Linked DNA regions of Homo sapiens: region 1 is linked to region 2. The links come from fine-mapping of genetic effects on gene expression. Tissue or cell type: esophagus mucosa. Region 2 holds a variant in brackets; the other region holds the start of a gene. All regions are shown on one strand. Distances are from middle to middle.

Evidence for each region. PIP is the estimated chance that this variant, and not a neighbour inherited with it, causes the effect.
Region 1: PLA2G4D starts here. The variant in region 2 is the best candidate, but not a certain one, in a credible set for the expression of PLA2G4D in esophagus mucosa (GTEx, PIP 0.62).

The regions. Positions count from the first base shown.
Region 1 is chr15:42,092,372-42,096,609 of GRCh38, forward strand. PLA2G4D (phospholipase A2 group IVD) reads right to left here and starts at 2,191. Exons shown (of 20, transcript NM_178034.4): 1 at 2,044-2,191. The coding sequence starts at 2,088. RefSeq lists enhancers at 1-41, 1,016-1,990.
Region 2 is chr15:42,041,528-42,045,765 of GRCh38, forward strand. LOC105370793 (a long non-coding RNA gene) reads left to right here and starts at 1,300. Exons shown (of 3, transcript XR_932177.1): 1 at 1,300-1,376; 2 at 1,659-1,748; 3 at 2,420-3,063. It also overlaps a transcript of PLA2G4E not described here. RefSeq lists a silencer at 3,821-3,981. The variant A/G (reference allele first, on the strand shown) is at 2,525.

The DNA.
Region 1 (4,238 bases), 51 kb after region 2:
TCTTCCCTCATTGCCCCACGGATATCTAGGATATCTAGACACTAGATTTTCATAGATTTGTCTAATTTGACTAACAGATATTCATAGATTTGTCACAGATTTGACTAATATGATTACTGAGATAACCGACACTTTAACTGATATGAATCTTTTCCCCTGAGGGCATAGGGGCGTCACATTCCCTTCTGAAAGCTCCTCCCATCTGAAATACCTCCTTAATTGATGACTAACCCGGAGGCTTCTGGAGGAAATTCGTCAGCCCAGTCACCTGTAGGATCCCCCGAATGCCTCCCTGCTGAGGGTCTCAGCCACTCTGAACCTTGCGCAGGGACCCCAGAGGCTCTGGGCCATCCTTCTTCCGGTGGAGAGGCCCAGGGCACACGTTTGCCAGGAAGTTTTGTGAGAGGCTCTGTGCTGCCCCGTGCCCATCTTGGGAGATGTGGCCCAAGAGAGCTTAAGGGGGTTGGGTCTCCCCAGCTGGGGTCCAGAGTATCCTTGCCCGTGATCCTGGGTGTTCGGCAGGAAGAGAGAAATGAGCAGACCCACCCTGTCGTCTGCTGGCACTGGCGCCCTGTGGTGGGGCAATGCAGGAGGTCAGAGAGAAGAGGAGTGGAACCCCTGGGCACAGCCCCAGGCCCTGCACCTCCCTCAGGCTGGGCTGAGTCTCCTGGACCACACGGCAGGCACGTTCCAGAACAGGTCCCGGATGGCCAGCCTAGCCTGCTGGCCCAGGTCCCGCTCTGGGGCAGGTTCCAGGCCCCTGTTCCAGCAGAAATGAGGCTAGGCTAAACCGCTGCTGAAGCTTGCCAACCACAGGAACCGACTTGAAGGCTGGAGCTTGAGGACCTGGTCCTGGGGACTCAGTCCTGTGAATGCCAGCTGGAGGCGAGGTGCTTTCCAGGTGTGGGGCCGACTGAGGCTCCCAAATTGCTGACACTTAGGCTTTTGTTTTACCCAGGAGCTAGACCTAGAGCAGGCTGAGGGAAAAGGGGAAAGGGGCACAGCCTTCGCCAGGGAGATGAGTTTAAAGGGGGAAATATTCCAGAAGCCTCCACAATGGGCCGTTCTGGGCTCAGGGCTCCTGATGGGACGGGTGGTGGAGCCAGGGCCGCCAGCCCCTCCACTGGCCTGCATCCGTGGACTCCCCCGCATCCAAATGTCCGCTGATGTCTGACTCGTGGGTGGATCCACCTGACCTCAGGCTGGGGCAACAGTGTGGTCCTTCACTGAGGGGTCCCTCTCATCTTCCCCCAGGGCTCCTTAGTGTCTGCCCTGCCCCAGGCTGAGCCTCTTCCAGGAGCACCAGTCTGGAGCTGCTTGTCTGGATCCAGCTTGGGCCTGGGTCTCAGGGCCACAGCTCTAGAAGCCCAGCGAGGTCTGCATATGAGGCAAAGGACCTCAGGACAGTGACCTTGACACACTTAGCCTCATTCCTGGCCACCACCTGGGGCACCGGGGGGAGACCTCAGGAGCCAGCTCTGCTGGCCTTGGTCCCTGGCAGAGGATGAAAACTCTGGGCTTTGGAGAAACACATGACAGAGGGTGGGGGGGTGGCGAGAAGTTTGCAGGCCTCCTTGGCCTGGATGCAGCCCCACAGCTCTTGGGCCTACTAAATACTTGGCAGTGGATGGGGATTTGGGCCCCCAGAGCTCTGGAGACACACAGGGTGATCCCAGGGCTCCAGCCAGTTCTGGGAAGTCTGCCGGCCTGTGGTGGTGGGGCTGTGGGCCTGGTGGGTCTCCTTTTGTGACACACCCAGCCACTATGTTCTCCGATGATGGTGGGGGAGAGGTCCCTAAGGACACTGCTGTGGTCGCTGGTGGTGGGGAGAGGAAGCTCTGCTGACCAGACTCACGTTTCCCAGCCCCCGCATCTACGGATGCTGCTCACCCACCCCACCCACTCTGCATCCCAAATCTCAGACTCCCTCGCCCTCTGGCCCAGTCTGAAATCACCCTGATTCCAGCTATCACACTTCCCAGAATGCACCCTGGCTCCAGGCCTGCCCTGACTGGTGCCCACATGCTCTGCAGACACTGTTACCTGGTAAGGGTGGCCAGGTGGTCCCCCAGGTGACAGGCTCTCCATGCTAGCCCTTCCAGCTTCACTCCAGGCCCAGCCCTTGCCAAGATGCTGGCTCTCTGGCTGAGTGGCAGCGACGGTCCCAGTGGGATAGGACCAGCATGAATCTGCCAGCCTTCAATGAGCCACGATCCTATAAACAGGTTGGGGCTCCACCCCCAGGTCGCTCCTTCAGCCCTGCACCTGCCCCTCTTCCCCAAGAGGCTGGGTCAACCAGCATCTCCAGAAACCTCTGGCAGGGCTCCAGGACCTGCAGGCGGAGCACCTCTTCCAGACCTGGAGTTTCAGGACAGAAGATGCAGCCAGGGGGAGGCAGACGAGTCCCAGGAGTGGTGGCAGGAAGCTGGTTCCCCTGAGGCTGAGGGCAGAGGATGGGGTGGGGGTAGAGCTGAGGAAACCCCCAGCTCCACTGGAGCCAGGGCCAGCCTCTAGAGGAGGAGGGCTGAGCACCTGAGACTAGGCAAGGAGCCAGCCCTCCTGGGCAGCTCTGTGCAGCAGGGAGTTCAGGGGATGAAAACAAGAGCAGTCGTGGTGACAGGCCCGGGCTAGTGTATCCTCCTCACCTGACCTGAGCAAGCTCCAGGGAGCAGCACAGGGGTCTGGACATTCCCCACCACAAGCCCCTCACCTCCATGCGGCGGGCCCTAAGAATTTAGGGGATTTCAATTAGACTTTGTAATAAAAGTAAAAGAGACCAATCAGGAGATTCTTAGGTTATGAAAATTGTAGAAGTAAACTTTGTGAAGCCACCTCACCGCTTAAAGCATTCAGTGTACACATTAGCACTGAACGCTCTCCTAAAATGACATGAATTCAGTCATTTTACCATCAATTCTGTAAACAGTTGAACAGCGATGATGTTGTTTTTCAAAGCAAATGAAACTGAGTTAATCTTAAAATACTACAAGTGGATCTAAAATGTATTATTTCAGAGTTGGCCAAAACAGGAATCTAATGGTCTATGAACAAGTAAACATTATTTGGGTGGAAATATCTGTCATTTGCATGATATAAAATTTAATAAAAAAATGAATGTAGTGGTTGAGCATGGCAGCTAACGCCTGTAATCCTGGCACTTTGGGAGGTCAAGGAGGGAGAGTTGCTTGAGGCCAGGAAATGGAGACCAGCCTGGGCAACATGTTGAGACCCCATCTCTACCAAAAAAATTTTCTAAATTAATGGGGCATGGTGGCACGTGTCTATGGTCCCAGCTACTCAGGAGGCTGAGGTGGGAGAATTGTTTGAGCCCAGGAGTTCAAGGCTGCAGTGAGCTATAATTGCACCTTTGCACTTCAGCCTGGGTGACAGAGTGATACACTGTCTCTTTAAAAAAAGGGGTGGGGGGGAAAGAAGTAAATGTAATATGTAGAAAACTACAAAGAACAAGTCATTTCAAGTGGGTCACAGACAAAGCAATACAGAATCACCCAGCTGGTGACTGGAAAGGCTGGGATTGTACTGTCTGTCCTGAAGCCCACCCACCAGAACTTCCCTGGTCCTTGGTGGCCTCCATTGTTTAGGCCCGTTCCAGAGGAATCCTGGGACCTTAGGAGTCCTGATTAACCTCCCTGCCCCTGTCATCCCCATACGCCCGCCGGGATCCGCTGGGGGAACCTAGGGAGGCAGAGCCGCAGCAACACGTTCCTTGAGGTGACCCCAGCCCCAGCGCCCCACTCCAGTACGGGAGGGCCAGACACCCCCTCACCCCCAGAAGACAGCTGGCTGTGCCTGGAGGAGGACGTGGTGCTCAGTTTCCCCACCTGTGCAATGATGGTGTGGTAGATGCTGGGCCTGGTGAAAACTACGAAATTCCTAATTCAGAGATTCTTAATTTGGGTCTAGGGTCCATGGATGGGAATTAGGATACTTTTAACCGTCCCTGAAATTGTATACAAAATTATGTGACTATGTATGCATGTGTGAATGTTTCCAGAGAAGGGGTCTAGAACAGCACAGTCCAGTAGGTGACTATGTATGCATGTGTGAATGTTTCCAGAGAAGGGGTCTAGAACAGCACAGTCCAGTATGTGACTATGTATGCATGTGTGAATGTTTCTAGAGAAGGGGTCTAGAACAGCACTGTCCAGTAGGAATGTTCTGGGAGCTCTGCAGATGTTGTATTAAACTTTCTAGTGGCCACAAAAAAAGAGGTAAAA
Region 2 (4,238 bases):
GAGGATTCAAGTTATTGCAGTGTATATGATGAACTAAAGAGACCTCCCCAGGAGACCCATTGAAGTCAGATGACAAGGAAGGACACTGGGAGTTCCAGAGAGGAAATATGCCCTAAAGAAGAGGGAAGTTTAGACCAGTGTCCTGTACTGAGTATTGGGGTTTACCTTATCAGAACCACTCTTTCATGCTTATTCACTTTGCTACCGTGGGTCTCTTTGAGGGGAACTGGCTCTGTGTGTGTGTGTGGAGGGACAGAGCTGCATCATTATCAACAGACACTTGGTCACCAGGTCCCTTTGCTGAGGGACCCTCCTCATTGCTCCTGACAGGGCAGATGCATTCTTTAGCCTGGGCAAATCAGCAGAGAGGCTTTTGTAAAGTTTCAAGTCAGCAGACAAATGATGGGGGTCTGTCTCATGGACGGGGACAATGGCCATGCGAATTCTCTGGGCTATTTGGAGGGAAATCTTGACTTCTCTGCCAACTTGACAAGGAGTGGAGAGGAATCATTGTAATTTGCATATCAATGACATTTTCTAGGCTTTTGGGTGTTCATAGCACACTCCAAATGGTCATAGCATCAGAAATTGGAAACAACCTAGATGATATGATGTTATGTTATGTAGCCATTTTCAAAAATCTGGTTTTTAATAGCAGAGAAAAATTAATCACTATTCACTGATATGTAGAAATGACAAGTTTTACAATACGAGCTTAATTTTACATATATCAATATACGTATATATAAAGAAAATTTATTTCTAAATATATGTGCCTATAAAAAAGACTGGAAGGAAGTATATTAAGGGTTCAGGAAGTTATTTCTGGATGATGTTATTGGCAATGTTTATTTTCTCTATTACATTTTTCAAATTTTGTAATGTCTATACTGAATACATATATTATTTATAATCAGAAGAACAATTTTGTAAAAAGAACATTATTATAAATAAAGTTGCTCTTTAAATAAAGCAAAAAATGCATTTAGAGACAGGGAAAGAAAGCTAACATTTATTTCATGCCTACCATGTCCCAGGCCACCATACCAGATATTTATATATGTCAGCTCTGTTAAAAGTATCTTCTCCCATGGCCATCCTCTGGGAGTAGCAGGAGGTGTAGCTTGAGGTGGGGTCAGGCAAACCCACCCAGGGAAGGAATTTTTTCTCAAGAGCTGGGAAGCCCTTTCTTCCTTCTACTAAGCAGCTGGCCATCTGCCCACCAACCAGATCCTTCTCTTTGCCTTGGGTGAAACATCCACTCATTGGGCAAGGAAGGGGGCAGAGCCGTGGCTCACTGAAAATGTGACTGAAGCAGATACTGGAGCCCAGGCCAGCAGGGGCTTGAAACTATAGAGCAAGGAAGGCAACTTCAGGTATGAAAAGGGCAGTCAAGCACCAGAAAGGGTTAGACTGATATTGTGCCTGACCTGATGGTGGAAATAGGGCCTTTCTGAGTGGGTAGATTTGACCTTGGTGTAAGAAAGAACTTAGTCACTTGGAAGGTAATAAGCTTCCATTCTTAGAATTATGCAAGGGGTTCCTGCCTGGAAGGTGCAGAGGAGACTCCTACACTGGGCAAGCGGGGGTGGCTCTGGAAACCTAATGATCTGTTCCAGTTTTGAGAGTCTGTTACTCTCCATCCCACCATGCCCCAGATTCAGAAGACAGCTTGCTCACCCTGTCAGCTGCTGGAAGCATGTGGGAGAGGCCTTCCGGAGGCCAGGCCCACCTTTGTTGCCTAAGAGGTAGGTGGCTCTGACGGTGGGAACTTTACTAGGCAGGGAGGAGGGAACAGGGAAGGGCCAGCCTGGCCTAGTGAGGGAAATATGTGAGGAAGGTGGGCCTGTGGGCACCCGTAGGTCAGGACCTGTGGGTGGCCATCCACTCGGCCTTTCTCAGAACCAGCCCTGAAACTCATCTCGTGGGGCAAGTCTGATGCGAACATGGAGTCTCTTGTCCTGGGTGGCTCTCACCTGCTAATAGACACATCCTCACAAATGGTAGGTATTTAGGGAGCATGGTGATGGAGGATACAAAAAAAAAAAAAAAAAAAACAACCACAAACCAAAGAGGCCAGTGACAAAAAGCTTACAACAACAACAGAAGTTCACAGGCAAGACCCATAAGACAAATGTAGAGGAAAGAGCAGGAGATCTAGAGTTAGAGAGACCCGAGTGCGTATCTTGGCTCTGGCACTTACTGGGGCAGCAGTCAGCAATTACTTTATCTCTCTGAAACTCACTGTTCACTTTCCTCATCTGTAAAATGGAGTTAATAGTACTGATTTCACAGGATTGTTGTAAAGATTATATATTATATATACATAAACACCGTACATATACATCTGGCACACAGAATCTGGCATGTCATAAACCTTAATAAATTGTCATGGTTACTGTTATTCTTTTTGCTACAGGACAAATAAATTGGAAAGAACTAACCGTAAGTGTACTTGGACCGCAAAGAACCTCAAGGTTGGCATGGGCTGGAGAAGTCAGTGAAAGCTTTGTTCACTGATGAC[A/G]GAGACATTTGAGCACCTCCTAAATGCTAGGCACTGTGCTACAGGTTCCGAGTATCAAAATCAACATGGTGCCTGCTCTTGGGAAGCTTCTAGTGAAGTAGCTTTGAAAGAAAATAATTTCTAACCATCAACTGCGATAAGAATCAGGAAGGAAAGTAACAGGGTGCTACGAAAGACGGGAACGGATTCTGATTTGGGGAGACGTCAGGGATGACCTCCCAGAGGAAGCAGCCTTGAAGCTGAAACCTGTAGGAAAATCGGGGTTAGCTACATGCGGGCTGTGGGGAGAGTCCCCCAGGCTGAAGGTACAGCAGTGCAAGGCGTTGAGGAGTGGAAAAGGCTGGCGTGTTCAGAAACTGAGCACCTGTGTCTGGGGCACGGTGAGGAAGGAGTGATGAGGTCAGAGAGGCCTTGGAAGCCATGGTCAAGATTTGGGATTTTATCTTAAGAAACTGGATGCCACCGAAGGGTATTAAGCAAGGACAAAAAACCAAACACCGCATGTTCTCACTCACAGGTGAGAACTGAACAATGAGAACACTTGGACACAGGGTGGGGAACATCACACACTGGGGCCTGTTGTGGGATGGGGGGAGGGGGGAGGGATAGCATTAGGAGATATACCTAATGCTAAATGATGAGTTAATGAGTGCAGCACACCAACGTGGCACGTGTATACATATGTAACAAACCTGCATGTTGTGCACATGTACCCTAAAACTTAAAGTATAATAAAAAAAAAAGAAAGGAAGTGATGTGAATGAGATCATCTGGCTGCTGGGTGGGGACAGAATTGGGCAGGACAGGGACAGGAAGATGTGTTGTAGTGGCTCAGATGGGAAGCAAATGGTCACTTGGGCCCGGGTAGGGGGCAGAGATGGAAGCAGTGGTGGACTCGAGAGGTATTTCTGAGCAGAACCTACACGGCATGGTGATAGATTAGATATGAGGGCATCCAGTGGGCTTCAGTGACCCGGCAGGATAGATTAGATATGAGGGCATCCAGTGGGCTCCAGTGACCCAGCAGGTGAAGGTACACAGGGCTGGTCTTGAAGGGGAGGCTGTCAAGATCCCACGTGGAGGCCGGTGGGGAGTCTCAGGGGGCTGAGCCTTGAGTTAGGGGCAAGGTTTGGAAAGGTGGCAGCTGGGGAAGGGAGACCCTCTACGATGGGAGGTAGCAGAACTGGGGAAAGAAGTAGGAATGAGCTTGCCTCACTCCACGTGGGTGGCACAGAGTAGGGCAAGCCCTGCTGAGAGGGAAGGGCATGAGCTGGGGGCCAAGAGTGTGAAACCGGGAGGATGGGGTGGGGTGGGGCCCCTGGAGTGGGCGGAGGCCTCTGCCTCTCATGAGATGCAAGAGATAGTAGGGAGCTGTTAGGTTCCCAGGCCAGCAGCCAGCCACCCAGGCAGCACCGGCACTCCACGGCAGTGCCGGGGGATGAAAAGGCATGAACAAGCAGCTGCAGAGCTTGTGCTTTCTGAGAGTATTTACTGACCACCTGCTCTGTGCTCAGAAAGATAACGGGATGTTTATGGAAAAAGTCTCTTGGCTCCCAGGACACCACTTTCTCATGGGTTGCTTCCAGCCTCACTGCCTGCTGCTTTGCATCTACTCTGATGGCTCTTCATCCTTGCCGGGCATCTGAAAGGTGGAAAACGGGAGAGCACAGACTTCTTCCCCTTCGCTTCTGTCTCTTTATCCTTTAGAGATGTC